Linked DNA regions of Homo sapiens. The protein of the gene in region 5 interacts with the protein of the main gene of each other region in a biochemical or structural test. Each region holds a gene or a part of one and is shown on either strand. Other genes may lie near its edges.

The links.
Region 1: the proteins of TNKS2 (region 5) and RAD54L interact in a biophysical measurement, tested with the Homo sapiens proteins (one study listed by IntAct).
Region 2: the proteins of TNKS2 (region 5) and TAOK2 interact in a biophysical measurement, tested with the Homo sapiens proteins (one study listed by IntAct).
Region 3: the proteins of TNKS2 (region 5) and NUMA1 interact in a biophysical measurement, tested with the Homo sapiens proteins (one study listed by IntAct).
Region 4: the proteins of TNKS2 (region 5) and ARPIN are reported together in a solved structure, tested with the Homo sapiens proteins (one study listed by IntAct).
Region 6: the proteins of TNKS2 (region 5) and TNKS1BP1 interact in a biophysical measurement, tested with the Homo sapiens proteins (one study listed by IntAct).
Region 7: the proteins of TNKS2 (region 5) and MYO18B interact in a biophysical measurement, tested with the Homo sapiens proteins (one study listed by IntAct).

What each region holds. Positions count from the first base shown.
Region 1 is NC_000001.11:46,246,095-46,251,024, reverse strand, and holds the start of RAD54L (DNA repair and recombination protein RAD54-like), read right to left. Parts: upstream 3,263-4,930; 5' UTR 2,620-3,262; coding exon 2,617-2,619; intron 2,514-2,616; coding exon 2,427-2,513; intron 1,026-2,426; coding exon 906-1,025; intron 1-905. UniProt on the Homo sapiens protein: Plays an essential role in homologous recombination (HR) which is a major pathway for repairing DNA double-strand breaks (DSBs), single-stranded DNA (ssDNA) gaps, and stalled or collapsed replication forks.
Region 2 is NC_000016.10:29,983,553-29,986,734, reverse strand, and holds part of TAOK2 (serine/threonine-protein kinase TAO2), read right to left. Parts: coding exon 3,071-3,182; intron 1,523-3,070; coding exon 1,157-1,522; intron 1,078-1,156; coding exon 874-1,077; intron 471-873; coding exon 1-470. UniProt on the Homo sapiens protein: Serine/threonine-protein kinase involved in different processes such as membrane blebbing and apoptotic bodies formation DNA damage response and MAPK14/p38 MAPK stress-activated MAPK cascade.
Region 3 is NC_000011.10:72,014,543-72,018,711, reverse strand, and holds part of NUMA1 (nuclear mitotic apparatus protein 1), read left to right. Parts: intron 1-198; coding exon 199-316; intron 317-411; coding exon 412-529; exon of another isoform or gene 530-884; coding exon 885-1,025; exon of another isoform or gene 1,026-1,353; intron 1,354-1,824; exon of another isoform or gene 1,825-2,181; coding exon 2,182-2,304; exon of another isoform or gene 2,305-2,451; coding exon 2,452-4,169. UniProt on the Homo sapiens protein: Microtubule (MT)-binding protein that plays a role in the formation and maintenance of the spindle poles and the alignement and the segregation of chromosomes during mitotic cell division.
Region 4 is NC_000015.10:89,902,648-89,906,816, forward strand, and holds part of ARPIN (arpin), read right to left. Parts: intron 1,337-4,169; coding exon 1,130-1,336; intron 733-1,129; coding exon 569-732; intron 1-568. Other genes in the region: ARPIN-AP3S2 (uncharacterized protein LOC100526783), read right to left, coding at 569-732, 1,130-1,336. UniProt on the Homo sapiens protein: Regulates actin polymerization by inhibiting the actin-nucleating activity of the Arp2/3 complex; the function is competitive with nucleation promoting factors.
Region 5 is NC_000010.11:91,804,399-91,808,567, reverse strand, and holds part of TNKS2 (poly [ADP-ribose] polymerase tankyrase-2), read right to left. Parts: intron 1-4,169. UniProt on the Homo sapiens protein: Poly-ADP-ribosyltransferase involved in various processes such as Wnt signaling pathway, telomere length and vesicle trafficking.
Region 6 is NC_000011.10:57,307,467-57,311,635, forward strand, and holds part of TNKS1BP1 (182 kDa tankyrase-1-binding protein), read right to left. Parts: intron 4,053-4,169; exon of another isoform or gene 3,898-4,052; coding exon of another isoform or gene 3,772-3,897; intron 3,091-3,771; coding exon 929-3,090; intron 1-928.
Region 7 is NC_000022.11:26,024,931-26,028,778, forward strand, and holds part of MYO18B (unconventional myosin-XVIIIb), read left to right. Parts: intron 1-1,514; coding exon 1,515-2,748; 3' UTR 2,749-2,760; intron 2,761-3,848. UniProt on the Homo sapiens protein: May be involved in intracellular trafficking of the muscle cell when in the cytoplasm, whereas entering the nucleus, may be involved in the regulation of muscle specific genes.

The DNA.
Region 1 (4,930 bases), on a different chromosome or scaffold from region 5:
AAACTGTTTTCATTTAGTTGTTTTGTTTTGTTTTTTGTTTTTTGTTTTTTTTTTTTGAGACCGAGTCTCACTCTTGCCCAGGCTGGAGTGCAGTGGCGTGATCTTGACTCACTGCAACCTCGGCCTCCCGGGTTCAAGTGATTCTCATGCCTCACTTGAGTAGCTGGGACTACAGGGGTATGACACCATGCCCAGTTAATTTTTGTATTTTTAGTAGAGACGGGGTTTCACCATGTTGGCCAGGCTGGTCTCAAACTCCTAACCTCAGTTGATCCACCCATCTCAGCCTTCCAAAGTGCTGTGATTACAGGCGTGAACCACCCGACCCGGCCACAAAACCGTTTTTAAATGTTTGCTGAATGCACAAATGACTAATCTCCATTATGTATTCCTACTTTTCCTTCAAAACATTCCTCATAAAGCTTAGTGGAAAAGCTTTGGAGATAGACAGATCTGCTCCACCCACTCTGAGCAAATTACTTAACCCTTCTGAGACTGTTTTCTCATCTTAAAACGTGAGAATTACATGAGGCAATGCACAGAACCTGCCATGGTGGTGATTAAGTTTGACTTTACTAGAGGAAATACATGACTCTGGTACACCTTAAAGTCATATACAGAGTCAGAGTCTGAGCTGACATGAGGATCCTAGTTCCTTTACCCTCCTTTCCTCAGGAATCTGAACCATCTGATATCTGGTGCCCATGTAGCTACTATAAACCAGGCACAAGTCAGGCACACCTCTCTAAGCAGGCCCCAGCAGCTGTGGGCAGGTCCAAAGCCCCTACAGATGTGTGTCTTCTGGCCACTCTAGAAAGCACTGAGGGAGTGTACAGGGACAGGAGTCTACCTAGGCTGAGTGACTGGGCACAGACATACACATGCAGGTTGCAGTTCTGGCTTACATGCTGACTGCTGTCCAGACAAGGTGGTTGATTGGTTAGCTGACTCAAAGGTTTCCGAAAAGGAGACAGGAAACACTCCTGGATCTGGGTCTCACTGCTGGATTTCCGTTTCCTAGGAGTCTAGGAGAGAGAATTGGGAAAGGTGAAGTCTAGAAGACCACAGAAATCACCATAATGGCAACTAACACTTGAAGTGCTTATTAAGTGCCAGGCACTGTGCTAAATTCTTCACACATGTCATAGTGTATCATCTTCATAGCAACTCTATTATGTAGAGTTATTATCCTTATTTAAGAGGTGAGAAAACTAGAGCTTAATGAGATTAAATAACCTGCCTAAACTGAGCGGGGCAATGGAAGAGGTAAATAAAATGGGCCTCTGAAGAGCAAGTCTACCAACAGCATGGAGTCCTGGTGGCCCAAAGCTTCACTCCAAAAGCTCCATGGAATGATGGAGCAACCAAACATTTCGCTGAGTTTCCAAGAGGCAAGAATACAGCTGCCTTCAACTCCCAGGCCACTGAGGCCACTCCCCACTCAGGCCACCCATGGCTGTGAGGACACTGGCACTAAAAGCATCTTCAGAAGCAACCAGCAACTGACAGCAGACCCAGATGCAGAGAATGCTGCCCCAAGTTCAAGTCTGAGACCCATGTACATGGCAAGGGTCAGCCAATGTGCCTCCTTCACAGGTAGAGAAGCCCCTTGCACACCACGGTACAACTATTGAGCAAGCCCCATCAAGCCATTAGGCAAGAACACACTTGTACCAGCTTGCCAGGATATTTGAAGCCTCAGTGATCCTGTAAGACACACCTGAAACAAACACCAGCACCCCTACCCCACACCTTATTCACACACTGCTCCTGCCAAAAAGTGCCTTCTAGTCCTTGCGTAGCTGATCCCTTCCTTCAAAGTTCCAGTGGCCAAGCCCCCACTTCTTGAACTGCTCTTATTCTCTGAAGTCCATGCTGCACTGTCCTATTTATTTTGGTTTACATAGGTCCTGCCCACAGCCAGCCCCAACAAGCCTCCAAAACAGGAAGCAGAGCCCAGGGCCCAACCTAAAGTAGAATATACTGTACTTGAGTATGAGCAAGGACTGGAAGGACACAACCTGTCAGATCTAGGCCCAAGTGAGCCCAGGACTCCAAGGTAGGCCCAGAACACTCTACTGTTCTGTGACACTGGGCAGGGGACAAAGAGCAAAAGAGCCAGCTGCTAATTGCTGTTGTGTAGCCCTTTTTTCCAAGCAGAGTCAAAAGGTCCAATCCAACTGGCTCTTTTGCTTATCTTTTCCCACCAGGAAAACTGAGGCTATATTAGCTTCTAGTGACTACCCTGAGGATAAAGATTTTACTAATCTTGTTCAATGCCTGGCACATAGTAAGTACTCACTAAAAGTTTATTGAACATACAAAAGAGGCATCTGGAATTGGCTATGTAACCCTAGAAACCAAATCCTGGCTTCTTTTCTGTCCAAACAGCTCTACCCACCTTCCCTGTCCCCTTGAGTGCTCACCACTAGGCCAGGTTGCCAGTCTTCATCATCACAGGACCTGCCTTCAGGTTTTCTCTTGGCCAGCTGGCTGGGAGCCAAGCTCCTCCTCTGTAAAGGGAGAACAGAAACAGTGCCTGCAAGGATCCTGCAGCCTAGGCCTACTAGACCCTGACCCAGGGCTATTCCCAGTCTCCCCTAGGCCCACACTTACCATCCTGGGCCTAGGAGTTTAAAACGTCAAGTACCCATGAGCCAAAGGTCAAAAGCAGGCAGCGGCTAAGAGTGTAGGACCAGGGTCTAATCTGTAGAGGGGGCTGCTACATTATTGAGAGGACCGGCTAATTAAAGAGGGGGCATGGATGGCGGGAATCCATCCAGGAACTGGTGTTTGGAACCAAACTGTGAGAGTGGCCGTCCCCAATAAGCCGAGACGAGAGATTAGGCCAAAGAGGAAGAGACCAAGCAGAGATTAGTGTGGGATTGGGGAGGAGGCAGGTGGAGTCCCAGACTGGGCGGAGTGGAGTGGGGATGATGGTCCCAGTCCGGGTGAAGGGAGGAGGTAGTTGCGCGGCGGGGCGGGGTGGGATTGGGGGTGGGTAATCACTGGCCAGGAGAGAGAAGCTGGGGTGAAAGTCCGAGGCCCGGGTGGGGAGGGCGAGTCTGGAGAAAGGAAATTTCCCAGGGCTGGAGGTGGAAACCAGGATCAGACTCAGGGAGGTCGAGCAGGAAGCCACGCGGGCGTGTAAAAAACCCAGGTTAGGAGGGGAATACCAGGAGGGGCTGAAAAGAGCGACAGAGATAGACGCAGACCCCAGCACCTCTCTCTCAACCTTCCTGTTCCCAAAGCGCGCGTTAACAGCCGCCAAGACTCACCGACCCGCCAAGACCGGGTCAATCGAACCTCCCGCCGCGCTGCCGTCGTATCACCCATTGGCTGCGTTCGATGAGTTCGGCGCTCGCGACCCAAGGAAGAGGCGGGAATAGTGCTGCGCCCAATGAGGAGTCTGGGCTCTGGAGCTGGAGAAGCTAAATTGACCTACTAGGAGGCGTGACTTAGATGGGAGGGCGGGGCCAACAGAGGTGGGCGGTTGGGCGAGAAGAGAGGGGCGGGGCGGGGGCGGGGGTGGCGGGGGAGGGGCGGGGCCAACAGCGAGGAGCAGTTGGGCGAGAAGAGCGGGGCGGGGCGAGAAGAGCTGGACGGGGCGGGGAGGGGCGGGGCCAACAGTGGGGAGCGGTTGGGCTAGAGGAGCGGGGCAGGGCTAGAAGAGCTGGACTGGACGCGACGGAGCGGGGAGGGGAGGGGCGGAATTACTACCTGCGAGCTGGAATTCGGCCCGTCTCGGGTGTTTGTCCCAGGTCGGTGAGCTGTGGTCCCGCAGCTATGGAAGGGAAGATTTACGCCACATTGAGCAGCAGGGGAGTTACCACCTGTAGTGGACAGCTGGGGATTATGAAAGGCGGCACATTTCTGGGAGTTTGGATTGAATCTACAGTGGTACCAGGTCTAGAGCGGAGGGCCGGGGTTGGAGTCAGGCCTCGCCCACCCAGAAAGTGGGGAGAGGCATTCGGCCCAGACTGCCACGTGGCGGGCTCGGGCAATGGGAGCCCCCGGATGACGCGACTTTCTCGCTCAGGGGTGTCTTGAAAGAAGCTGCCTTCCTCTCCAAGGCCAAACCGCGTTGGAGGAAGCGTTGTGTTTGGAGTCAGAGATTTAATCATCCAATCTCTCAAAACGTCAGTTTCTTCATATCTAAAGTGGCATTATAATAGTACCTCCCCCCCATGGCTATTCTGACAAGTAAATTAATGTGCGTAAAGCACCCAACAGTGGCATGCACAACCTAGGTACTCACTAATAATGATAAGGGTGTATTTATAGCATTTACCACCAGGCATTTCTGAGCTTCTAAGATATAACAGTTCATGTAATGCTCATGACTATGAGGTAGGTTTATTTTTGTCCCCATTTTGTAAGTGAGGAAACAGGCCTAGATAGGCTAGTAACTTGTACAAGGTCACACACCTGAGTATAGCTTAAGCCATCCTCACAGGGTTATCAAGAATTCTGAGGTCAGGCATGGTGGCTCACACCTGTAATTCCAGCACTTTGGGAGGCCGAGGCAGGAGGATTGCTTGAGCCCAGGACTTCCAGATCAGCCTGGGCAACACGGAGAAACCCCATATCTACAAAAAAATTAGCCAGGCATGGTGGTGCACAGCTGTAGTCCTAGCTATTGCAGACGCTGAGCTTGGAAGCATCGCTTGAGCCTGGAAGGTCAAGCTGCAGTGAGCCAAGATCGCGCCACTGCACTCCAACCTGGACGACAGAGCAAGACCCTATCTCAAAACAAAGAATTCTGGGCCGGGCGCGGTGGCTTACGCCTGTAATCCCAGCACTTTGGGAGGCCGAGACGGGCGGATCACAAGGTCAGGAGATCGAGACCATCCTGGCTAACACGTGAAACCCCGTCTCTACTAAAAATACAAAAAATTAGCCGGGAGCGTTGGCGGGCGCCTGTAGTCCC
Region 2 (3,182 bases), on a different chromosome or scaffold from region 5:
GATTCTTCCCCCAGAATCCTCTGCTGCTTGGGCTCCAAAGTGGCCCCTTCCTTTCCCAGAATCCTTCTCTCTCCAACTGCTTCCTCCTCCTCGCCAAGCATTCTTTGGTCCAGGACTGCCTCCTGGCCAGGTGAGCAGGGCTGCTGTTCTATAGGGGTGCCTGTGTTGGGTGGGCCCAGAGCCCCAGGAATGGGGAGTGGAAGGCCCGGGGGGCGCTGGCCTGCACGTACTTTGAGGCTCTTGGGCTGCTGGCGAACCTGGGCCGCATGCTTCTGCCGCAACTCTTGCTCACGCCGCTTGTTGTACTCCAGCTGGTTGCCCAGCTCCGTCTGGTGCTGCAGGCGGGTGAGCTCAGCCCGCGTGCGCTGCACGGCCTGGAGCTGCCGCAGCTCCAGCTCCCGCGTGGCCTCGTGCTGCCGAAGCAGCAGTGCACACTCCAAGTCCTTCTGGGTCTGCTTCTTGTTCAGGTCCTGAGGCAGAAGAAATGCAGGGCCCGGGGCCTGGTCAGTATCAAGGAAGTGAGAGGCCAGGGCTCCTTGGCAGAGGGAGCTGGGGATGGCGGAAGAAACACAGGGCCCAGGGCCTGGTCAGTATCAAGGAAGTGAGGGGCCAGGGCTCCTTGGCAGAGGGAGCTGGGGATGGCAGGAGATGAGGGTGTAGGGGAGGCAAGCTCCTCCCTGGCCTGGGAAAAGAGGCCTAAGGAAATTCTGGCAGGGTCTGTTGGGGATGAGAAGTAAAAGGGGCACTGAAGCAAAGCTGAACTGTAACACTCGAGGGCCAAGGAGAAAGAAGACAAGAATGAGGAAAATGGAAAAGGGTGGGTCCCTGGGATCCACGAGTGAGCGGGAGGGGAACAGAGATTGGGATGCCTACCTCCCGCAGCAGGTCCTGGTCCAGGCTGTGCCGAGCCAGCAACATCTTGCGCTTGTACTGGCGACACTGCAGCTCAAAGTACTGGCGCTGCCGCCGCAGCAGCCCTGCTTCCTCCTCCGCCTGGCACTGCTGGAGCTGCTCCTTCTGCCGCAGCAGCCACTCGGCCTTCTCCCGCTTGGGAGTGCTGGGGTTCTCCTGGAGCTCCTGGGCGAGTGCAGAGGGAAGCAGGGTCAGGACCCACCTGGCTCGCCATCGGCTCCGCCCCCAAGCAGCCCTAGCTCACCTCCTTCAGCTGTTCCTTGCGAAGTTTGTAGGTCCGCTTCTGTGCCTCCAGCAGGGCAGCCAGCTCCTTCTTCTGCTGCCCAAGGATGTGCTGCTGGAACTTCCGCTCCTCGGCCTGGGCAGCTCGTGCCTCCTTCTCACCTATGGCCTGGTGCCGCCGGGCCAGCTTTTCTGCCTCTGCCCCAAAGCCAGCCCGCTGCGCCTCAAGCTCCCGCTGCAGCCGTGCACTGTGCTCCTCCCGTTCACCCCTCAGCCGTGACTCCAGGGCCAGCAGCTGCTTCTGGTGCTGTCGTCGCATCCGCTTATAGCCGCTCAGCTGCTCCCGCAGCGCAGAGTCCTGCTCATGCTCCTGGATCTGACGGCTGACCTGGGGAAGGAGAGAGGGTGAGAGCTGGGGCTCAGCCTGGCCCCTAGTTAATTAACACAAGGGGTCTTCCGTGGGGAAGAGCATGGGTTTTCAACTCATGGGTTTCATTCTCATTTAACACCTTCCTCACACACGGCCACTCTAGCCTGTTTCCTCAACTGGATAATGGTGATATTATCTACATCACAAGTTGGTGTGGCCGAATGATAAAAGGTGGCGAGCACAGGGCCTGGCACAAAAGTAGGAACAATCCATACTAATTTGAAACAGTGAGTCAGACATACCTGGGATCAAATCCCAGCTTTGCCACTTACCAAGCATGTGATCTCAAGTAAGTTAACTTCTCAAAGCACCAGTTCCCTCATCTGTTAAATGGGGAAATAATACCTCCTCATAGGGGCTGTGGGGTAAGTTCGGACTCTATCTAATAAGTGTTGGCTTCCTTCCCCTTCAGCAAACATGGTCGGCCTATCACTCCCCAGGTATTGAGGTGGGATCGGGGCCACAAGATGCTGGAATAACAAGAACACTGGGCTTGGACACCTTCATCCAAAGTCTGATCTCAGGTCTCATTCTCAATTGACTCTATGAGTGGCTCTCAAACTAGTCCCGGCAGCCAAGCCCCTGGCAGTCAAGACCTCTCAGCACAGTACCGCACAACACCATGGGATCTGAAGAATTGTTGGAACACAACCAGCACCAAGCAGAGGCCATAAGAACATACTAGACTTAATCAGTGGCCTCTAAGGGGATTGTTGACGCTCAAATGCAGCTCAGCAGGAACGTGATCTAAAAACATAGATGAAAAACTATGTTTTATGAAAAGCCTAAACACTTTTTCCTGTGAACTGAGAAAGACTGCCATGAGTTGATTTTAGGAGAGGACTAAGGGCCTGCTTACAGGAGCAGAGAGCCACCAAAGGCACTGGGGCAAGTGGCCCCTCTGAGCCACAGGTGCCTCATTTCTCCAATGGGATCTTACCCTTCCCCTCCCAGGGGGGCTGGGAGGGTTAACACAGGCCTGTGTGTAAGCCTGAGAGCTAACTGCTGGCATGAGACAGATATCTGAACACCATCCCTGCCCTCTGGGGCACAGAATCTGGCAAACCTATCATGATGCTGTTCAGGACCACCCAAGCACAGGGCACCCCCGGCACAGGGCTCCCCAGCACTGGACACCCCCAGCACAGGGCTCCACAGGCACAGGGCTCCCCCAGCACTGGGCTTCCCCAGCACACAACTGTGAAGCATCTGACTCACCAGAGGAGCCTGGGAAGGCAACCCAGGAGATGTCAGTTAAGTCAGGCCACAAAAACGGAGTAAGAGTTTGCCAAGCTAGAAACACCCAGATTGGGCCATATGACCAAAACAGTCCACTGGGAAGAGGAGGGAAGCAGGAGGGTTAAGGGGAGCAGGCAGGAGCCAGCAACAGAAAATGAGGGTAGAATCCAGACTCAATCCCATGCCACAGGGAGGAAATCATTTCTAGACTTAAAAAGACTTAAAAAACAGACAGCGAGCAGGCTGAGTGAGGATGGCTACACTCACCAGGGAGGCGGTTCGGATGGTGGCAAAGTGGTCTCGGTTACGGCAGTAGGCCCGGCGGCGGGCGGAAGAGGTGGTGGAAGTGGGAGCTGGGGCTGCAGGCGGCTGGAGAGGG
Region 3 (4,169 bases), on a different chromosome or scaffold from region 5:
GCCTGTGGTCAGGCTGACCTCCTGGAAGCTAGGTTCTGTCTTTGTCCCCATCTTCTCTTTCCCTTAGATTGGATACCATATTCCTCCTCTTCCCTATGCCGTCTCCTCCCTTCCCCTTGTGCACATAGTTCTGTGCACATAGTTCCGCTCATGCACATAGTTCTGATTCTCCTCTCCTCCTCCCTCCACTCTGGGCAGATGCACAGATAGCCATGATGCAGCAGCGCATTGACCGCCTAGCCCTGCTGAATGAGAAGCAGGCGGCCAGCCCACTGGAGCCCAAGGAGCTTGAGGAGCTGCGTGACAAGAATGAGAGGTACAGCTCTCCCTGCATTCCTTCCCAGGCCCCAGCCCCTCCCCTCACCCAGCCAGGAACCCATACTCTCTTCTCACTGCTTCCCTCCCTCGCAGCCTTACCATGCGGCTGCATGAAACCCTGAAGCAGTGCCAGGACCTGAAGACAGAGAAGAGCCAGATGGATCGCAAAATCAACCAGCTTTCGGAGGAGAATGGAGACCTTTCCTTTAAGGTGGGTGTTAAGGTGGTGTGTGCATGGAGGCCCCTCAGGGCTGAGGTGGTCTGGAAGGCTCCCCAAGAGAGGGTTGAGAAGAATGTCCCAGCACCTGTCTTATGCTTCAGTCTCTCCAGAGACCTGCATATTTTGCCCCTTTCCTTATCCCATAATTGGCGGCTTCCCGGGTACTGGGCTGTGACCCTAAATGTTGATTTGTAGTTCTGAATTAGAGGTGTGATGGCTGTGATTGGTTTGTAGAGGGTTGGCAGGATAATTGGAGGCATCCAGCCCCTGGGGTTCTGGGAGCAGACAGCAGTGGTGGGGTCAGCGTTGACTCTGGGTGATGGGGATTCTCACTTGCCCGTCTCAGCTGCGGGAGTTTGCCAGTCATCTGCAGCAGCTACAGGATGCCCTCAATGAGCTGACGGAGGAGCACAGCAAGGCCACTCAGGAGTGGCTAGAGAAGCAGGCCCAGCTGGAGAAGGAGCTCAGCGCAGCCCTGCAGGACAAGGTAACCCTCTGCTGGGGTCACAGCCACAGTCTTGACCACATGTGCAAAGCTGAGTCCAGTTTACCACTGTGCTCTTCTGGGCCTTTGGGTATTAAGTTGCTTTCTCTTCAAGGTTCAATAGTGTGCTGTAATTGAAAGATTGTGGGCTTCAGTCTAGTACACCTTTTTTTTTTAACTTATTTTTTTTTTCCCCAGTCAATGCCCTCACTTTATAGTACACCTTTCAATCCTATCTCTGCTGTTCACAAGATGTGGATCTTGGACAAGTTAATCAGTCTGTTTTTCTAAGCATCCTTTCCCTAAAATGGGAGTAGTAACGAGTAGCTGCCTCATCACCTATTATGAGAAAACGTATGTAAAGCACTTCACACATCGTGTAGTGTAAAGTAAGCTCTCAGTGAACCAGTTGTGATTGTTACTATTGGTAAGAACCCAATTTGGCCACTTACTAATAACCATGTAGCCCTTGATCAAGGCACTTAGCATCTGCTTCAGGTTCTTGCTCTGTAAGAGGAATGGTAGTAGCTGCCTCCCACATAAGCTGGGTGTGGTGATGCATGCCTGTAGTCCCAGCTACTCGGGAGGCTGAGACAGAAGAAGCTCTCGAATCTGGGAGGTGGAGGTTGCAGTAAGCCAAGATCTCGCCACTGCACTCCAGCCTAGGCGATAGAGCGAGACTCTGTCTCAAAAAAAAAAAAAAAAAAAAAAAAATTAGGGATGAACCCAGCATAGCCTATTGTAGGTGCTTAGTGAACAGTGGTGAAGAAGTGGGTTTGGGACTGGGGGTTGCTGCAGCTGCTGCCAGTGGTATTGCTGCCCAGAGGATGGTGGGCAGCTGGTGGTGATTTGGATAATCTAGGACTCAAGACTTATCTGAGGAAGGGTATACGGTAAGGAAATTTGAAGTAAACTCAGCAGCCTTGGGGAAGTAGTAAGCAGGTTACATTATGACTTTATTGTGCCTTAGAACTAGGTCTAGAGAATCAGGTCCCTCATGCTCCCAGTTCCATGGTTTCTGCTTTTTTCTAGGCCAGGGCAAAAGGAGATCTTGGTAACAAGATGATGGGCCCCATGTTTGCTGATGTTTATGAGGGCTTGTGTGGTAATCTGGTGCCTGTTCCCCCTCTCTGTTCACATGGGTCTCATTTACTCCCAGAAATGCCTTGAAGAGAAGAACGAAATCCTTCAGGGAAAACTTTCACAGCTGGAAGAACACTTGTCCCAGCTGCAGGATAACCCACCCCAGGAGAAGGGCGAGGTGCTGGGTGATGTCTTGCAGGTAGGAATGCACAGAAAGACCTGTGTGCTGCTGGTTGGTGTGGACTCACATTCAGTACATTTGGGTTCCTGGTGTTCCTCCATTTCCAGAGGAGTCTTGATGACTGAGGAGTCATGCTGATCCCAGTTTGTCTCTTTATACCACCAGCTGGAAACCTTGAAGCAAGAGGCAGCCACTCTTGCTGCAAACAACACACAGCTCCAAGCCAGGGTAGAGATGCTGGAGACTGAGCGAGGCCAGCAGGAAGCCAAGCTGCTTGCTGAGCGGGGCCACTTCGAAGAAGAAAAGCAGCAGCTGTCTAGCCTGATCACTGACCTGCAGAGCTCCATCTCCAACCTCAGCCAGGCCAAGGAAGAGCTGGAGCAGGCCTCCCAGGCTCATGGGGCCCGGTTGACTGCCCAGGTGGCCTCTCTGACCTCTGAGCTCACCACACTCAATGCCACCATCCAGCAACAGGATCAAGAACTGGCTGGCCTGAAGCAGCAGGCCAAAGAGAAGCAGGCCCAGCTAGCACAGACCCTCCAACAGCAAGAACAGGCCTCCCAGGGCCTCCGCCACCAGGTGGAGCAGCTAAGCAGTAGCCTGAAGCAGAAGGAGCAGCAGTTGAAGGAGGTAGCGGAGAAGCAGGAGGCAACTAGGCAGGACCATGCCCAGCAACTGGCCACTGCTGCAGAGGAGCGAGAGGCCTCCTTAAGGGAGCGGGATGCGGCTCTCAAGCAGCTGGAGGCACTGGAGAAGGAGAAGGCTGCCAAGCTGGAGATTCTGCAGCAGCAACTTCAGGTGGCTAATGAAGCCCGGGACAGTGCCCAGACCTCAGTGACACAGGCCCAGCGGGAGAAGGCAGAGCTGAGCCGGAAGGTGGAGGAACTCCAGGCCTGTGTTGAGACAGCCCGCCAGGAACAGCATGAGGCCCAGGCCCAGGTTGCAGAGCTAGAGTTGCAGCTGCGGTCTGAGCAGCAAAAAGCAACTGAGAAAGAAAGGGTGGCCCAGGAGAAGGACCAGCTCCAGGAGCAGCTCCAGGCCCTCAAAGAGTCCTTGAAGGTCACCAAGGGCAGCCTTGAAGAGGAGAAGCGCAGGGCTGCAGATGCCCTGGAAGAGCAGCAGCGTTGTATCTCTGAGCTGAAGGCAGAGACCCGAAGCCTGGTGGAGCAGCATAAGCGGGAACGAAAGGAGCTGGAAGAAGAGAGGGCTGGGCGCAAGGGGCTGGAGGCTCGATTACAGCAGCTTGGGGAGGCCCATCAGGCTGAGACTGAAGTCCTGCGGCGGGAGCTGGCAGAGGCCATGGCTGCCCAGCACACAGCTGAGAGTGAGTGTGAGCAGCTCGTCAAAGAAGTAGCTGCCTGGCGTGAGCGGTATGAGGATAGCCAGCAAGAGGAGGCACAGTATGGCGCCATGTTCCAGGAACAGCTGATGACTTTGAAGGAGGAATGTGAGAAGGCCCGCCAGGAGCTGCAGGAGGCAAAGGAGAAGGTGGCAGGCATAGAATCCCACAGCGAGCTCCAGATAAGCCGGCAGCAGAACGAACTAGCTGAGCTCCATGCCAACCTGGCCAGAGCACTCCAGCAGGTCCAAGAGAAGGAAGTCAGGGCCCAGAAGCTTGCAGATGACCTCTCCACTCTGCAGGAAAAGATGGCTGCCACCAGCAAAGAGGTGGCCCGCTTGGAGACCTTGGTGCGCAAGGCAGGTGAGCAGCAGGAAACAGCCTCCCGGGAGTTAGTCAAGGAGCCTGCGAGGGCAGGAGACAGACAGCCCGAGTGGCTGGAAGAGCAACAGGGACGCCAGTTCTGCAGCACACAGGCAGCGCTGCAGGCTATGGAGCGGGAGGCAGAGCAGATGGGCAATGAGCTGGAACGGCTGCGGGCCGC
Region 4 (4,169 bases), on a different chromosome or scaffold from region 5:
GAGCCATGATCGTGCCCCTGCACTCCAGCCTGGGCAACAGAATGAGACTCCATCTCCCAAAAAAAGAGAAAAGAAATGAAAAGAAAAGCAACTGTGAATAGGCTGAGGATCAACGTGGGGACTGACTCTCATCAAAAGAAAAACCAGTAAGGACCAGGTCAGCCATTCTCCAGACACTTCAGGCAAGGAGCCCAAACCAAAGGAGGAAAAACTACGCATTCAGTTGTTCAACTGCCTCAGCATGGTTAATGTATTCACTTGAAGTAGAAATGTTTTGAGACTTAATGACCATGATTAATATCCCTCTGCACCCCCTCCTTCCTACCACTTGGGAATCTTTGGGGAATAGTTAGGTTCAGAGCCACCTACAAGAAAGGTCCCAGGTTGTCATTCTTCATACCTTAGAGGAATTCTCCTGATGCTAACACATTCCCAGGTGTTTCACAGAATTCCACTAAAGCTGGGGGGTAAGATTCATCCTGTCGTCTTCTCATCCTACCCACAACCTCAACCAGTATGTACCATGCTCCTGCCAGGAGATACAACTGCACCAACACCAGGTACCTACCCACTCCTCGTCCTCTGCCCCATCCCCCTGCTCTCGGATCTCCGCTGCAGCCCCCTTCGAACACTTTTGGGCCATGATGTTGTCTGTCCAGGATGCCCCTGTCTTTCCATCACCAGTGAAATTACACTTGGTCACTGTTCCAGCCTCAAGTTTGGCCAATGAATCTGAAAGAAGAGATGAAATTGAATGTCCTCTGTCCCTGTGGCAGAAACATAGTGAGGGCTGGGCCCATTATGGTGGGGTCCCCTAGGCCTGGGTTAAACCACTGTTTTCTCCAGGCATAGATGTGGTCAATGAGCCCCTGGGTGGGACCCCCAAGGTATGGTGGGAGAGTCGCTCACAGGAACCATGGGATTGGGTGGCACCCGGGGATCCAGGCTGTCGAGCCCAATGGCCCTAGGGCACTTGTGCAGGGATTTAGGAGTAAATCTCAAGGGCTTGGTCGTGTCCCCATGGAGGCCAGCCCTTGCCTGCTCCCATGAGCTCTAGGCAGAAGGGAGGCCAAGAGCCCCCATGGGCCACACAGGAACAGTGGGCCACAGTGAGGGTTGCATTGCTCACCCAGGAAGGGACCATCGCCCCGAGTCTTCAGCCGTACCCCGGCCCCCAGCTCGAGTTCCATCACCTCCATCTCTGACTCGGGCATCCAGAACGCCACTGTGTGGTCGGGGGTGAGGCTCTCTGTCAGCGCGAGCAGCTCTGGCTTGTTGACCAGCCCCTTCAGCGCCTCGGGCGTGAGCCTGTCAGTGTCCCCCTTGGCTTCCACCTCTGCAGGCACAGAGCGCAGGAGGGTCATTATCACTGTGGCAGCAAGAACTTCCGGAGGGCCTCTCAGGAGCCAGGTGAGGGCTGAGTGTTTCCAAGCTCAGTCACCCGGAGGCTGGGACTCAGTGCCCATTCTGCGAGTCCTCATCAAGGAACTCCACAGCAGAGGCGGACAGGCATGAGCTGGGGACAGGCAGCCTGGTGCAGATCTGGGCTCCACAATAACTTAGGCAAGTTACATCACCTCTCCGTACCCGAAAAATAGGATAAAATCAGAACCTACCTGACAGGACTGAAATGACGTATAAAGGAAATAAAGCATGTAGCACAGCGCCTGGCACATGGACCCCTAGGTAAGCATTCATATGTTTTCACTATTCCCATCTTACAGATGAGAAAACTAAGGCTTAGAGAAGTTCAGTAATTAGCTCAAGGTCACACAGTAGTAGAGGAGGCAGGATTCAAAGCACCCCAACACATTCCATCTTGAGACCCCGGTGGCCAGGCAGGGTTCTCTCCAGGCTCTCAGGGTCTACCTGGCTGGGGTGAGGTCTACTGGAACCAGGAGTAAACTCTGGTAGTCCCCCTCCTCTCTCCTGGCCCTGGCAGAGTTCATGGACTAAGGGAGGAGTCCTAAATCCAGGTGCTGGATTAGGGAAGGGGCACTCCCGGACTGTGAAGTGGGCCCAGCCTCCCAGGACTGTGTGTTCACAAGGCCACACCCCAGCACAGCAACCCCGGAGCTTGTCCCACAGGCTGCCTGCGCCACGCCAAGCCCAGGTGGCCGCACTTCACTGGAGAACATCCCAGCCAACCCATGAACACATTTCATGGAGCACATTCCATTCATGGTGTACAACCTCAGCCAACCTCTGCCAGGGGTGCCTTCTGGGACTGCACAGGTGGCTGCTCCCACAGGACTGCTCCATCCTCCTCAGCCCTCTGCCCTGACACCCTCTAGACAGAGCATCTCACTTTCTTTGCAAGGTAACAGAAGCCATCAAGTGAGACCTCTCACTTCCCTGACCACTCACCTGTCAACCCTTTTTTTTTTTTTTTGAGATGGAGTTTCGCTTTGTCACCCAGGCTGGAGTGCAGTGGTGCAATCTCGGCTCATTGCAACCTCTACCTCCTGAGTTTGAGCAATTCTCCTGCCTTAGCCTTCCGAGTAGATGGGATTACAGGCGTGTGCCACTACACCCAGCTAATTTTTGTATTTTTGTTAGAAACGGGGTTTCACCATGTTGGCCAGGCTGGTCTCAAACTCCTGACCTCAGGTAATCCACCCATCTCAGCCTCCCAAAGTGCTGGGATTACAGGCGTGAGCCACCACGCCCAGCCATCAACTCACGTCTGACCACACAAAACATCTCCTCTTTCCTTCTGTCTCAAAGGATAGGAGGCCTCTCCTCCTGCCTCAAGCCAGCTCCTCCATCTGGGCTGCAGATAGACCCCTTCCCCCCTCCTGAGGACCTGTCTCTCTCTCCCCACTCCTTGACCTTTCCTCAAGGCCTTCCTGCGTTCTGGCTTTGACACCTACTGCTCCAGACCCCATGTACCCCCACCAGAGTCACCGGTGAGCTCTTAACCTGCAAACTTCTTGGATGCTCCATATCTCAGACCTAACTAACCCGTGGGCAGTGCCTGACCCCACTGCTAGCTCCTCACGCCTGTTCCCCTTGGCTTCGCGGGGCTTTAGAGACATGACACCTTCCCATCCCTCGGACCTTTCAGTGGCTCCATCTCCTGCTCTTCCTTCTCCATCCATCTCCTATTGTTGCTATTTCCCAAGACAACCTCCTGGGCCCACTTCTTTTCTCCTCCTGGGTAACTGGGTCCACTTCCATAGCTTCAATACTCTCGATGTGCTGCAGCCCAGTTCTCTCCCCAAGTTCTAGAACTATCCTCCAAGGCCTCAGTAGACCTCTACCCAGCAGTGCTCCTGGCAACTCAAACTCAGTGTGTTCCAAACAGACCTCCTCCCCACAAACCTCTCGCCCCTCCATTTCCCCAAGTCTGGCACCGATGCCCAACCCCTGGCATCATCACGACTCCTTCCTCTTCCTCCCCAGTAGCCAAGCCAACACTGAGGCCACTGTGCCTCCTCTAGCTTGAGCTCCTCCAGTCTCTGCACCCCCACTGACAGGTCCTTAATCCTGGCCTTCTTATCTCTGTCCTAGGTGACCCTAACAGCTTTTTCACAGGCATCGCTGGGCTCCAGGCTATTTGCCTCCCTGGAGATTTTCAAACACAGACCTGATCACATCACCTGCCTACTTAAAACCTCACTACAGGGCTGCCCTGCACCCTTGGTTAGAGTTGAGCTCCTCAGTGCCCGCCCCTCCTGCTGCCTGCCCTGCATGGCTTCTCATACCTGGGTCAGGAACTCTTCAACTGCCAGGCATTGGGCACCCTCTGCCTCTCTGAAACACCCTGCAAATCCCTGGCACCTGGCTGACCTCTGCTTATCTTTCAGGATTCAGTCCTGTTATTCCCTGCTCTAGGGCATCCCCAGCCATGCCTGCCTGGGCTCAGCACCCTTCACGGGATCCAGGCCCGGGCCTGTCCATCTCCTCTACTGGACTAAGAACATTTCAAGTATACGACTGGGTCTTGTTCATCCCTGGACCTCTCAGCATGTGGCACAAGGGCTGGCACATGATATAGATGGTCCCTAATGTTCAGAGAGTCAATGAGTAACTGAAGGTATGAATGAATAAAGTGATAGAGTCCCACTCAACCTCAAAACCTTCTCACCCAGGGGCAGACAGCAAAGAGGCTCAACCAGAGACAAAATCAGGAAGAAGAAGAAGATCATGGAGGGCTTGCTATGGTT
Region 5 (4,169 bases):
AATGTCTCCCCTAAATAGGTCTCTCATTTCCACTTGTCTCTAGTGACCTTTTAAAAATAATAATATCACAGCCCTGTTTAAAATAATTCCTTGGCTTCCCACTGATGCTCTCAGAATAAAATTCAAACACTCTACTATGGCCTTAAAAGCTCCTTCATGAACTGGCCCTCAACTTCTTCTCTAATTTCATTTCACACGATTCTTCCCTTTCCCAACTATAATATACTTTCAGTTTGTCAAGTATGTCAGCGACTTGGTACATGCCACCCTTCTGCTTGGAATGCTCTTCCCTTGCACAAAGCATCCTCACTTCTACTCATTACCTGGTTTGTTTAAATGTCACCTCCTTAAGAAGGCTATCCCTGACCATCCCATCTAAAATAGTCCCTTCTGCCCATCCACATTTTTTCCTATCTTCACACCATTTAGTTGGTCTATCTCCCACCTCCTTCACTAGAATGCAAGCTCCATACAACAGGGATTTTTGTCTTTGCTGTTCATAGCAGTATTTGTCACTTATTAAAATTTGTAATTACTGCCTTATTTTCTAGACTCTTTTTTTTTTTTTTTTTGAGACAGAGTCTCGCTCTGTCCCCCAGGCTGAAGTGCAGTGGCCCAATCTCAGCTCACTGCAAGCTCTGCCTCCCGGGTTCATGCCATTCTCCTGCTTCAGCCTCCAGAGTAGCTGGGGCTACAGGTGCCCGCCACCACGCCTGGCTAATTTTTTTTGTATTTTTAGTAAAGGGGGGGTTTCACCATGTTAGCCAGGATGGTCTCGATCTCCTGACCTCGTGAGCCGCTCGCCTCGGCCTCCCGAAGTGCTGGGATTACAGGCATGAGCCACTGCGCCCGGCATTTTCTAGACTCTTAGTTCCATGAAGGACAAGAGCCATGTGCATCTTAATTCATCACTACTTCCCCAGCATCCTTTAGAGTACATGGTACAGAGCAATTTGTTGACATTTGCTGAATTAAGGTATCACAGTATATGAAAAGGAGTCTGAGAAGTAAAGCTAAGAAAGAATGGCATTGCAGGACTCGCGTCGGTTGGCGACTCCCGGACGTAGGTAGTTTGTTGGGCCGGGTTCTGAGGCCTTGCTTCTCTTTACTTTTCCACTCTAGGCCACGATGCCGCAGTACCAGACCTGGGAGGAGTTCAGCCGCGCTGCCGAGAAGCTTTACCTCGCTGACCCTATGAAGGCACGTGTGGTTCTCAAATATAGGCATTCTGATGGGAACTTGTGTGTTAAAGTAACAGATGATTTAGTTTGTTTGGTGTATAAAACAGACCAAGCTCAAGATGTAAAGAAGATTGAGAAATTCCACAGTCAACTAATGCGACTTATGGTAGCCAAGGAAGCCCGCAATGTTACCATGGAAACTGAGTGAATGGTTTGAAATGAAGACTTTGTCGTGTACTTAGGAAGTAAATATCTTTTGAATTAGAGAAAGTGTTGGGACAGAAAGTACTTTATGTAACTAAGTGGACTGTTCAGAAGCTTAGAGGTCATTTTTTGTAATTTTCTTTTTAATGTTTACTTTAGAGAGCTAGGGATGCAAATGTTTTCAGTTAGAAAGCCTTTATTTACTTTTGGAAACTGAACAAGAAATGCATCTGTCTTAGAAACTGGAGATTATTTGATGTTAGGTAAAACATGTAATTGTTTCTCTGGCAAATTTGTATCAGTAATTTGAAAATGAGATATTAGGAAAAACCAATTCTTCTTAAATTTAGTTCATCTTTCCTTAAAAGAACATTAAATGTAACCATTTTGTCAGATCCATGTATTTTGGAGCATAAAATGTATGCTGTTGTGACCAATAAATATAAAATATGGTAATTGGAATTAACCCCACACCATAGTATGCATTGTTATACATACTGTGTACCTAATTATGTATAGCAGTGTAGTCTCAATTATATCTAAAAGTAATTGTGACTAACAAGTATGCTTTGCCTTATTTCCACATTTAAAGTACCTGTTAATATAAGGGATTTGTAGTATCAGCTTGTTGAGCAATGACTTTGAATCTAGTTTTCAGTGATCAGAAGCAGCATTTATTTGAGTGTATGAATGGAATGATGATCACTGTGCTATAATGTACTGAAACCACCATATTACAGAAATATTTACTACATATTTTCCATCTGTAGTTTCTCAGAAGGGCTATGGATTAGTTTGAACTGTCAAATCCTTGCATACTTCTGTGACACCCCTGCCCATTTTCTGTCTTTAATTAACCAAGGTGTTAGGTGTTACTGTCACAACTGTTATGTTTTCCAGTAAACTAGAAGTACGATATTTGATAATTATATTTGTATCCTAAATTTCACCACCTAAATGTAATGTTGATTCCTCAAGAATGAAATGAAGGCACTACATTGAAATATGTTTTGTATAAATTTGTCATGTTGAACAACATTTTAGCATGGTAAGTTCCCTTAGCTATATGAATTTTGGCATGTTTCAGAGAGATCAGTAAATAAAATATTAGATAAAATATAAAAAAAAAAAAAAAAAAAAGAGAAAGAATGGCATTGCAGAAGCCAAGTAGGAAAATGTCAGAGGGGAAGGTCAGCTCTTGCTGTCATTAGCCCTGACTTCAGCCTTCCTTCCTGATCACTTCCTGGGCATTGCTGATCACACTGTCCTCCCCAAGTAGGTTATCTACAGTTGCCCTAATCTATGGTTCTGCTATCCCAACCACTTAGCACCCACCTGCAGGAAGTGCTTTTAGAAAAAGGCTTCTTAAATTGGAGAGTAAGAGAAAAAGAATCAAAATAAAGAAAAACCTGTAAAGCTACCTCTATAAAGTTATTTGATGTACCCAAGCATTTTAGAATAAGGATTACTATTCTTCAGCAGTAATAAGCATATCTGAAGTAATCAAAATGGTGACTCACAGGTTAACTCCCCCAGAAAGGAGAGTTAGATGTGCACAGAAATAGCTGGAGTAAAATAACTAGCTGTTATGAGAGACAGTGTCAACTGGGAAGATATCTGTCCCAAAGGATTGGTGATCTAAAGGAAGGTCAAGTAGTAGCCTTCTGTCAAAATAAGGCTGGAAAGAGAAGAGGGTTGCATGAAATCAGAGTTAAAGAGAAAGACATAACTGAAACTGAAGTTTTAGCTGAGGCGATCGATATGGGTAGAATGGGTAAAGTGATTATATCCACATAGTTACCAACATTCCAAGACACAGACTTCTGTGTCAATGTCTGTATCAACATGATTCCCTAGTCATTAAGATGTCTGAAACCAGTCTGGTGACTGATAGTAGAGGTATGATTTTACAGTCACACTGTAAGGACTACAATATGTGAGTGAATGTAATCTGCTATGCTGAGACAGTAGATTAATAGTCTGAGATTTTAATGTTTGAAGCCACATCTTGGGCACTTAAAGGAAATTATTTGGAGGCAGTCAATAGGTAGCTATGTTTAAAAAAAAAAAAAAAAGTTGCTTGGAGTTTGGCGAAATCTTTAGATTGAAGATACTTCCTGGCTGGGCACTGTGGCTCACACCTGTAATCCCAGCACTTTGGGAGACAGAGGTGGGTGGATCACCTGAGGTCAGGAATTCGAGACCACCATAGCCAACATGGTGAAACCCTGTTTCTACTAAAAATATAAAAATTAGCCAGGCGTGGTGGTACATACCTGTAATCCCAGCTACTCGGGAGGCTGAAGCAGGAGGCAGGAGAATTGCTTGAACCTGGGAGGTGGAGGTTGAAGTGAGCCAAGATCGCACCACTGCACTCCAGCCTGGGCGACAAGAGTGAAACTCTGTGCCTCACCCCCACAACCCCCAAAAAACCATACTTCCCAAACTGAGGAGTAATCCTTGATAAAATCTCTATTGTTATGGTCTCAAGAATAGTTCAAAGTACTTCTGTTAAGCACCAATTTCTGGAAGAAAAAATGCTCTGCAGGGTATATTCTGATCATGTTCTCACTGGCCAGGTAGAACATGAATAGGCATATCATCAGAGTCAATGTAAATCTCCATATTCTAAGGATCTCTTTATGAGGAACCAGAAGCCTAAATAAAGTTGGTAGTCATGGCTGCTCAGGACACACTGTAGTTTATTTTGTAATTATGGAACAGCACTCAACTTCAAACACTGTTCTACTTGTGAAAATTCTGATGAAACCATACACAGAGTAT
Region 6 (4,169 bases), on a different chromosome or scaffold from region 5:
CCAAATGCCTCTCCAGAGTCCCCAAGACCACCATGATATGCTCTAGCCCCTTCCTGCTCCTCTCCTCCCACCACCAACCCCTTCCACTTATAAAAGCCCCTGCCCCACACTTCCCTTGCCTTCCCCACATACCCAGTGAGAAGCTCCCACTGTGGGGCTGGAAAAGGTAACATTTTCTGCTCACTAAAGGGAATAAAAGCGAATCTCAATGGATGGAAATGTTAACAAAACGGATGCAATGCCTTTTTAGCACGTTTCTCAGCTGCAAAACCATCTCAGCTGGTTTTAAAACATCCATGAAACAGACTGTGCTTGCCTTGCAAAGCCTTTGGAAAGTTCTTTCAGCAAATTTGCACAGAGGCCAAGGTCATGGGGCCAGGTCCCCATACCCTTCAGGTTCTTGAACTTGCTATTCCAGGCTTCAAGACAGGACAGGCAAGAAGCACCAAGTACCTAACCTCTTTGAGAACCCGTGGGTTCCACTGTCCACTCCACTCCTGGCTGTGGTGGCCCCAGCCAAGAAGACACGGAATTCTCTGCCCTATACCTATGAAACCACCTGTGGCTTCAGGGCTGAGAGGCCTGGGGAACGGCTACTGTGTACAAGAGTAGAACCCATCAGAAACCATCCAAGCTATGACATGCACCATTTCCCCCGTCACAGTCACAATTCCAAATCACCAAGCTCAAACATGGGTTGCAAAAGTAACACATTAGTCATCCTTCAAAAAAGGAACTCACCTGTATGTGTATCATATTTCAATTATTTTTAAGTAGAACTAAAAATTCTTAGTCCAAAATGTCTCAATTACCCAAACACTAAAAGTCCTCAGGAAAAACTGTTTCTTCCCTCCTCAGAAAGGTTCCGATTTCTTGGACAGCCTTCACATGTTCCCTCCCACACTTGGGATGGGGCTCCGTTCATTACCTTGCTCCGAAGCTGAGGGCTTCTCCTGTCTCCATTCCAGGGTCTGCAGGGTGTGGCTCCAAGGAAGACGAGGAGTAATCTTCACCCTGGGTCTCTGGCCCACTTGTCTCACCAACCCCCAGCTCCCTGGCCTCCAAGGGGTCTCTGGCCTCCAGGCCAGGAGACAAGCTGCCATTGTGCCTCAGGCCGGGCTCTGGGCACTGGCTCACCCCGCCCACCCCATGCTCCCTGGCTTCACTTGGAGCCCCAAAGAGCTCCACATTCTGGGGCGCCAAGTCCTGGGTCCAGTCCATCTGCCCCACTCCACATCCCCGTAGCCCCTGAGAACCTCCAGAGTCTGGGTCACAGGTCACCTCCAAATCCCTCAGGCCCAGATTGTTACCCCAGTCCATCTGGCCCACCCCAAGCTCTTTGGACTCTCCAGGACTGCAGACTGCCCCTGGGGCCATGTTTCTCAGCCCAAGGTCAGGTGTCCAGTCTGCCTGTCCAACTCCACGCTCCCTTGATTTAAGGAACTCTCCGGCCTCCACACCTGACCAGTCAGTCTGCCCCACGCCACTCTCTCTGGCCTGGCTGTGGCCTCCTCCCTCCCCGACCTCAGCCAAATCTTTGCTCTTCACATTAACATCAGAAGTCCAGTCCTTCTCCCCAACTCCGATTCCCCCCGGCTCTTCAGACCCTCCACTTTCCAAACAGCCGGTCAGGTTCATGTCTCTCAAGCTCAGGCCACCTGACCAGCCCATCTGTCCCACGGCACTCTCCCTGGCCTCGCTCGAGCCCCCAGAACCCACACAGCTGGACACTTCCAAGTTCCTGAGACCCAGCTGGTCAGTCCAGTCCACCGAGCCAGCTGTGGTCTTCCCAGGAGGCACAAAGTGACCACCTTCCATCTTGCTAGAAGGGCTAAAGCCAGCACCACTCACTCTGTCGTTGCCAATGATGCCAAACTGATAGCTCCTCTCACTGGCCTCGATGCAGAAGTCCCGGCTCCAGTCCTGCTGCCCTGGGCTAAATGCTGCCTCTCGCTGGGGGCCAACACTGAGGCTAAACTCACCGACCCAGCCTCGCTTTCCCATCTCCCCATCTTCCAGGTCAGCACTGCCAGGGCCCTGAGCCCCTGCCTGCTGTCTCTCCTGATGCCCTCCCACCTCCTGGCTAGCATCACTGTTTTGCCAGCTGCTCTGGTCTCTCTGCCCGAGTGCCCCATCCGGCACGTGGGCAGTGCTAGGACTGAACAAGCCCCCGGATCCTCTCTCTCCTGGCCGGCCAGCATCCCTGCTGCCCTCTCCAAGGCTGTCTTCCACACTTGGAATCTTCTTCTCAAATTCCTCATCCTGTTGCTGGGCTTCCTCGGGGCTGAACCCAGAGCTCAGGGGTCTCGTTCCAAAGCTTCTGTCCTGGGCGTCAAGGGTCCTGGAGCTGCCACCACTGCTGTAGTCCCTTATCCAAGCGCTCTTCCCAAACTCCTGTTCCTGTGGCTCCGCAGCCCGGCTGCCATAGGTGCCGAGTGACACATCTCTCTTCTGAAACTCCCAGTCCTGCTCATCGGCATCCTGGCTGCTGTACCTACCATGGTGGTCCCTCTTCCCCAAATCTTGGCCCTGCTCGTTGGCATCTTGGCTGGCATAAGCACCCAGAGAATCTCTCTTCCCAAATTCCCAGTCCCCAAGGCTTACATCTCGACTACTGTAGGTACCCAGTGAATCTCTCTTTCCGAATTCCTGGTCCTGGAGTTCTGCATCCCGGCTGGAGTAAGTGCCCTGGGAATCCCTCTTTCTGAACTCCCAGTCCTGAACATCTGCCTCCTGGCTCCGCTGAGTGCCAAGCTGGGCTGGCTTTCCAACTACCCGGTCCTGGGCTGTGAGCACCCCTGGGGCAGACACTTTACTCTGGTCTTGGCTGCTGCTGGCCTCCATCTCCTCCTGGCCGATGCCACACCTGCTGGCCCACTCCCTGGTGCTCCCTTCCCCTGCTCCTTGCCCATACTTGCTGGTCCAGTCCCTCTCTCCGAGACCTGGGTCTCCTCTAGGGCTTGCACCCCCAAGGCCATAGTCCTGAGAAGCACCTTGACACCAGCTGGAAGGACTGAAACTGCTGGGCTGTGGGTCTCCTGTGATCCCAAATTCACTCTGCAGATCTTTCTGGGACCAGCCAAGGAGTCCCTGGGAATAAGAAAAAAAAACAGACAAAGAAACAACGATTAGATTCCATCAGGGTGGGAGTCAATCCAGCAGAGTCAGCGCTGCCTAGTGCCTGAAAGCCCCACTTTGGCAACAGAAAGCTGTGTGACCTTGAGCAAATCACTTAACCACTCTGGGTCTCAGCGTCCTCATCCTTAAACGAGGATAATTCCTATTGCATGGGGCTGGTGTGAGAGGATTAAATGAGATCATTTAGACCAAGCACTCAGCATAGTGCTTGGCATGCAGTGGGCACTCAATCGATGGTCCCATGGTCATGTTTACAACTCTTGGGCAATACTTGGCTAACAGCCAGGAGAGGAGTGGTCTTCACACAGGAATGGCAGGCAGTGCACTTTCCTTTTGATTAGGAGAGGTCAAGATTCAAAGCCTCTCTGCGACTTCCCTTGCAAGGCAAGGTTCCAACACCAATGACAGCTTTTCCAGCCCGTCCTCCCCCATGCCCCATCTGACCCCCATCCTCCTATAAGTACCCAGGCCCTTCTTCCCCAGCCAAAGTGCCGTCTGCTCAATCTTCCCCAGGAAGACCTCTCAGCCCTCACCCTGGCCCAGGAAAGACAAGAGGGGCAGCCTCTGGCACAGGGGAAAATCCCAGCCAGGGCTTCTTGCACCCCACCCCCCACCTCACGCTCCCTGACTCACCCTTGTGGGCGGGAGAGCCCTGGGCTCAGGGCTTCGGAGCCGGCCAGCCTCATCCCTCAGCGCAGCGTTGGCCAGCAGCCGCTCCAGGATAGACATGCTGGCCTCCCCATCCCCAGGCTGGGCCATGGCCCCCCGCCCCCAACCCGCCTTGGGGCTGCTGGGTGCGGCCAGCCGGGCGCAGGGATAGAGCTGGGCTGCTACCCGCGCTGGGACCTGTCCGACGGCTCTGGCGCTGGCTCTCCCTCACCCTGGCCCTGCTCCCTCCGGAGCAGCTGCAGCTTGGGCAGCCCCGCCCAGGAGCCAGTTGAGTCACCCACATCCCGGGACAGACACACCTACTACAGGAGTCAGCTTAACCCCTTCCTGCTCCTCCTTCTCCCCGCCCCGCAGCCCCCAGA
Region 7 (3,848 bases), on a different chromosome or scaffold from region 5:
TACATTTGTTGTCTGATTCATAGATTGCCATCTCACTGTGTCATCACACAGTGGAAGGGGTGAGGGAGCCCTCTGGGGCCTCTTTTATAAGGGCACTAATCTCATTTACAAGGGCTCCACCCTGGTGACCTAATCACCTCCCAAAAGCCCCACCTCCTAATATCATCATATTGAGGATTAGGTGTCAACATATTAATTTTCGGGGGAGACAAACATTGAATCTATTTCAGCCCCCACCTATTTCCCTGGGAAAGACACTGCTCTCCTACCCCAGCCATTCCCTCCCGTGCCTTCCATGGCCATCACCTCAAGGGAGCTTTGGGTTGGCTTCCTTCCCAGATTCAAAAGCCCATTGGGTCACTGTGGTCAGTTCTATTTCTCCTAAACTGTCCTGTGTGATCAGGAGTGGAAGTGGTGTTACCCAACTGGGTAAGCAAGAAGTCTTCCTCAAAGTCTTGTAGCAGAATCTCAGTCACCCTTTATACATAGAGTTCTGAATCCTACAATCGTCCTGATTGTTACAGTTCCAGCAACAAAGCACTCAGAGGCAGGGACCCCATGATTGGAAACCCGCGTGTGCATCGCCCTCAGCATCTCTTCAGGCCTGAGCCCACAGTGGCTTTATCTGCAGTGCCAACACTCTGACATTTGGCAACTTTTTTACTTTTTTAAAAAATAAATTATAACTTTGGTGAGGGGAGGGAATGGGGTCGTTTCTCTTAGAGAGAGGACAAATAGATTTTATTTATTAAAGGAAAGGTTGATGGACTCCAGTCTCTCTCCTTTGAATGATGCCATTTATTTTACAGTCTATAATTTGGTCCCACTGTGAGCCTCCTACTTTTCAGAGGCAAAGTGTTTTTGGCGCTGCTGCCACAAACTCCCTCTGCATAAAAACCACGTCTGGTGTAGTCCCAGAATAGAAACCGTCTGTCCTCTTGTGTATAGTCTTGGTTTTAAGTTGATTTCATGTGAATCTTTCCCTTTTGGGGGAAAAAGATTTTACCTACACCGTCACCCCATGAAACAATCAGGGATGTCATGGGGTATCCCGTGGAGACACATATTTGGGTCTTGACTCTCAGAAGCCCCACTTGGTGGGACTGTCCTCTAGGCTTGGCCCCAAATAAACAAACAGCCCACTGCATGTCCCCTTCCGGTCTTGAAGAAGCAAACTACTTATTTCACAGTAAGCTCTGGGATGATAGGTCCTATCATGTCAGATATGATGCCTCATAAATCTAATTCATCCGTCCTAGCTGCAGTTTTAATCTACTCAAATGTACTTAGCTGGGTTTAATTATAGATAGAAATTGCATTCGGAAAGCAACAAGAAATCATTTACATGGCTTGAATTTGCACATTAAATCATATGGTTCATTTGAGAGTGCGGTAGGGATGGTATTTCCAAAGAAAAATAATATTAGTGCCTGTGCTTAGGGGCTCTCACACCGATTGCACAAATTGTATGAATTGCACAATTTCTACAGACTGCATTTTTCTTCTTGGCACAGGATAAACGAAGAGGCTGGGGACACTGAGAGGACCCAGTCGGCATTGGCACTGAGCAGAGCCCGGTCCACCAATGTCCACAGCAAGACCTCAGGAGACAAGCCTGTTTCTCCCCACTTTGTCCGCCGGCAAAAGTACTGTCATTTTGGGGACGGCGAAGTGCTTGCCGTCCAGAGAAAGTCCACAGAGAGATTAGAACCTGCTTCCTCTCCCCTGGCTTCTCGGAGTACAAATACATCCCCGCTGTCGAGGGAAAAGCTGCCCAGTCCTTCAGCGGCCCTCTCGGAGTTCGTGGAAGGGCTCCGGAGGAAGAGAGCCCAGAGAGGCCAGGGGTCCACGCTGGGCCTAGAGGACTGGCCCACTCTCCCCATTTACCAGACGACTGGGGCCTCCACACTAAGGAGGGGCAGGGCTGGCAGTGACGAGGGAAACCTCTCGCTGAGGGTTGGGGCAAAGTCACCCCTGGAAATCGAAGGGGCCGCTGGTGGTCTCTTGAGGTCCACCAGCCTCAAATGCATCTCTTCAGACGGTGTTGGGGGCACAACCCTACTCCCCGAAAAGTCGAAAACCCAATTCAGTTCCTGCGAGTCCCTCTTAGAATCCAGACCGAGCATGGGGAGAAAACTGAGCTCTCCGACCACACCCAGGGACATGCTGTTGTCGCCCACACTGCGTCCTCGGAGGCGGTGTCTGGAGTCCTCTGTGGACGATGCGGGCTGTCCAGACCTTGGAAAGGAGCCGCTTGTTTTCCAGAACCGCCAGTTTGCCCACCTGATGGAGGAACCTCTAGGCAGTGACCCATTCAGCTGGAAACTCCCAAGCCTCGACTACGAACGCAAGACCAAAGTGGACTTCGATGACTTCCTCCCAGCTATCCGGAAGCCCCAGACACCTACCTCCTTGGCTGGATCAGCCAAAGGTGGGCAAGACGGTTCACAGCGTTCAAGCATCCACTTTGAAACGGAAGAGGCTAACCGTTCCTTTCTCTCGGGGATCAAGACCATTTTGAAGAAGAGCCCGGAGCCCAAGGAGGATCCCGCTCACCTGTCTGACTCGTCCTCATCCTCCGGCTCCATCGTGTCCTTCAAAAGTGCTGACAGCATCAAAAGTCGACCAGGAATCCCACGACTTGCGGGTGACGGTGGCGAGCGAACGTCCCCCGAGCGGAGAGAGCCAGGGACGGGGAGGAAAGACGACGATGTTGCGAGCATAATGAAGAAATACCTCCAGAAGTAGGAACCAGTTCAGGTAAAAGCAACAGGCTGGGGCTATTCTTGGGGGAATGAGAGTTCACCTTGCAGCCTTGGGGAGAGCAGGTGCCACTACTGTCCTTAATGCCACAACCGATTTCTCTAGAGACCAAGATTTTTAGAGGTTTTAGCTGAAGTCATGTGTTGATGGATGCAAAGCTTTTCAGAACCCCTCTGCTGGGTACCTCTACTTCCTTGTACTTTGAAATGCAGACACATCAGAAAGTAAGAGGTTCCTGTGGGATACCGCTAAAGAAGGTGCCAGATGTAGCCGGGCGCGGTGGCTCACGCCTGTAATCCCAGCACTTTGGGAGGCCAAGGCGGGTGGATCACCTAAGGTCAGGAGTTTGAGACCAGACTGGCCAACAGGGTGAAACCTCGTCTCTACTAAAAATACAAAAAATTAGCCAGGTGTCTTGACGGGCGCCTGTAATCCCAGCTACTCAGGAGGCTGAGGCAGGACAATCGCTTGAACCAGGGAGGCAGAGGTTGCAGTGAGCTGAGGGTGCCACCACTGCACTCCAGCCTGGGAAACAAGAGCAAAACTCTGTCTCAGGGAAAAAAAAAAAAAAAAGGTGCCAGATGTTTAAAGTTACCTCACCCTACTGTCATTTTCTTTTCTTAATGTCATTCCACCTGGGTTTGAAGGAGCTGTGATGGCGTTCTGTCCACATAATGACAGAAGATCCGTGGTGGGATCACAGACATGCAAAGGGCCAAGTTGGAAGAGACCTTCAGAATAGTGGAGTCCACTTGCATTGCATATGGAGAGAAACTGAGGCCCTAGGTTCAGGGGGGAGGGAACAAGTACAAAAATCACAGAGCAACAATGCAGGATAAGTAACTACTTGCTGCCCTTCCTCCCTCTCCTAGCACTCATCCTGCCACTCATCTGGAGTCAAGGTAAGAAGAGGAATTCAGGCCGGGTGCGGTGGCTCACGCCTGTAATCCCAGCACTTTGGGAGGCCGAGGCGGGCGGATCACGAGGTCAGGAGATCGAGACCATCCTGGCTAACACAGTGAAACCCCATCTCCACTAAAAAAAAATAGCAGAGCGTGGTAGCGGGTGCCTGTAGTCCCAGCTAC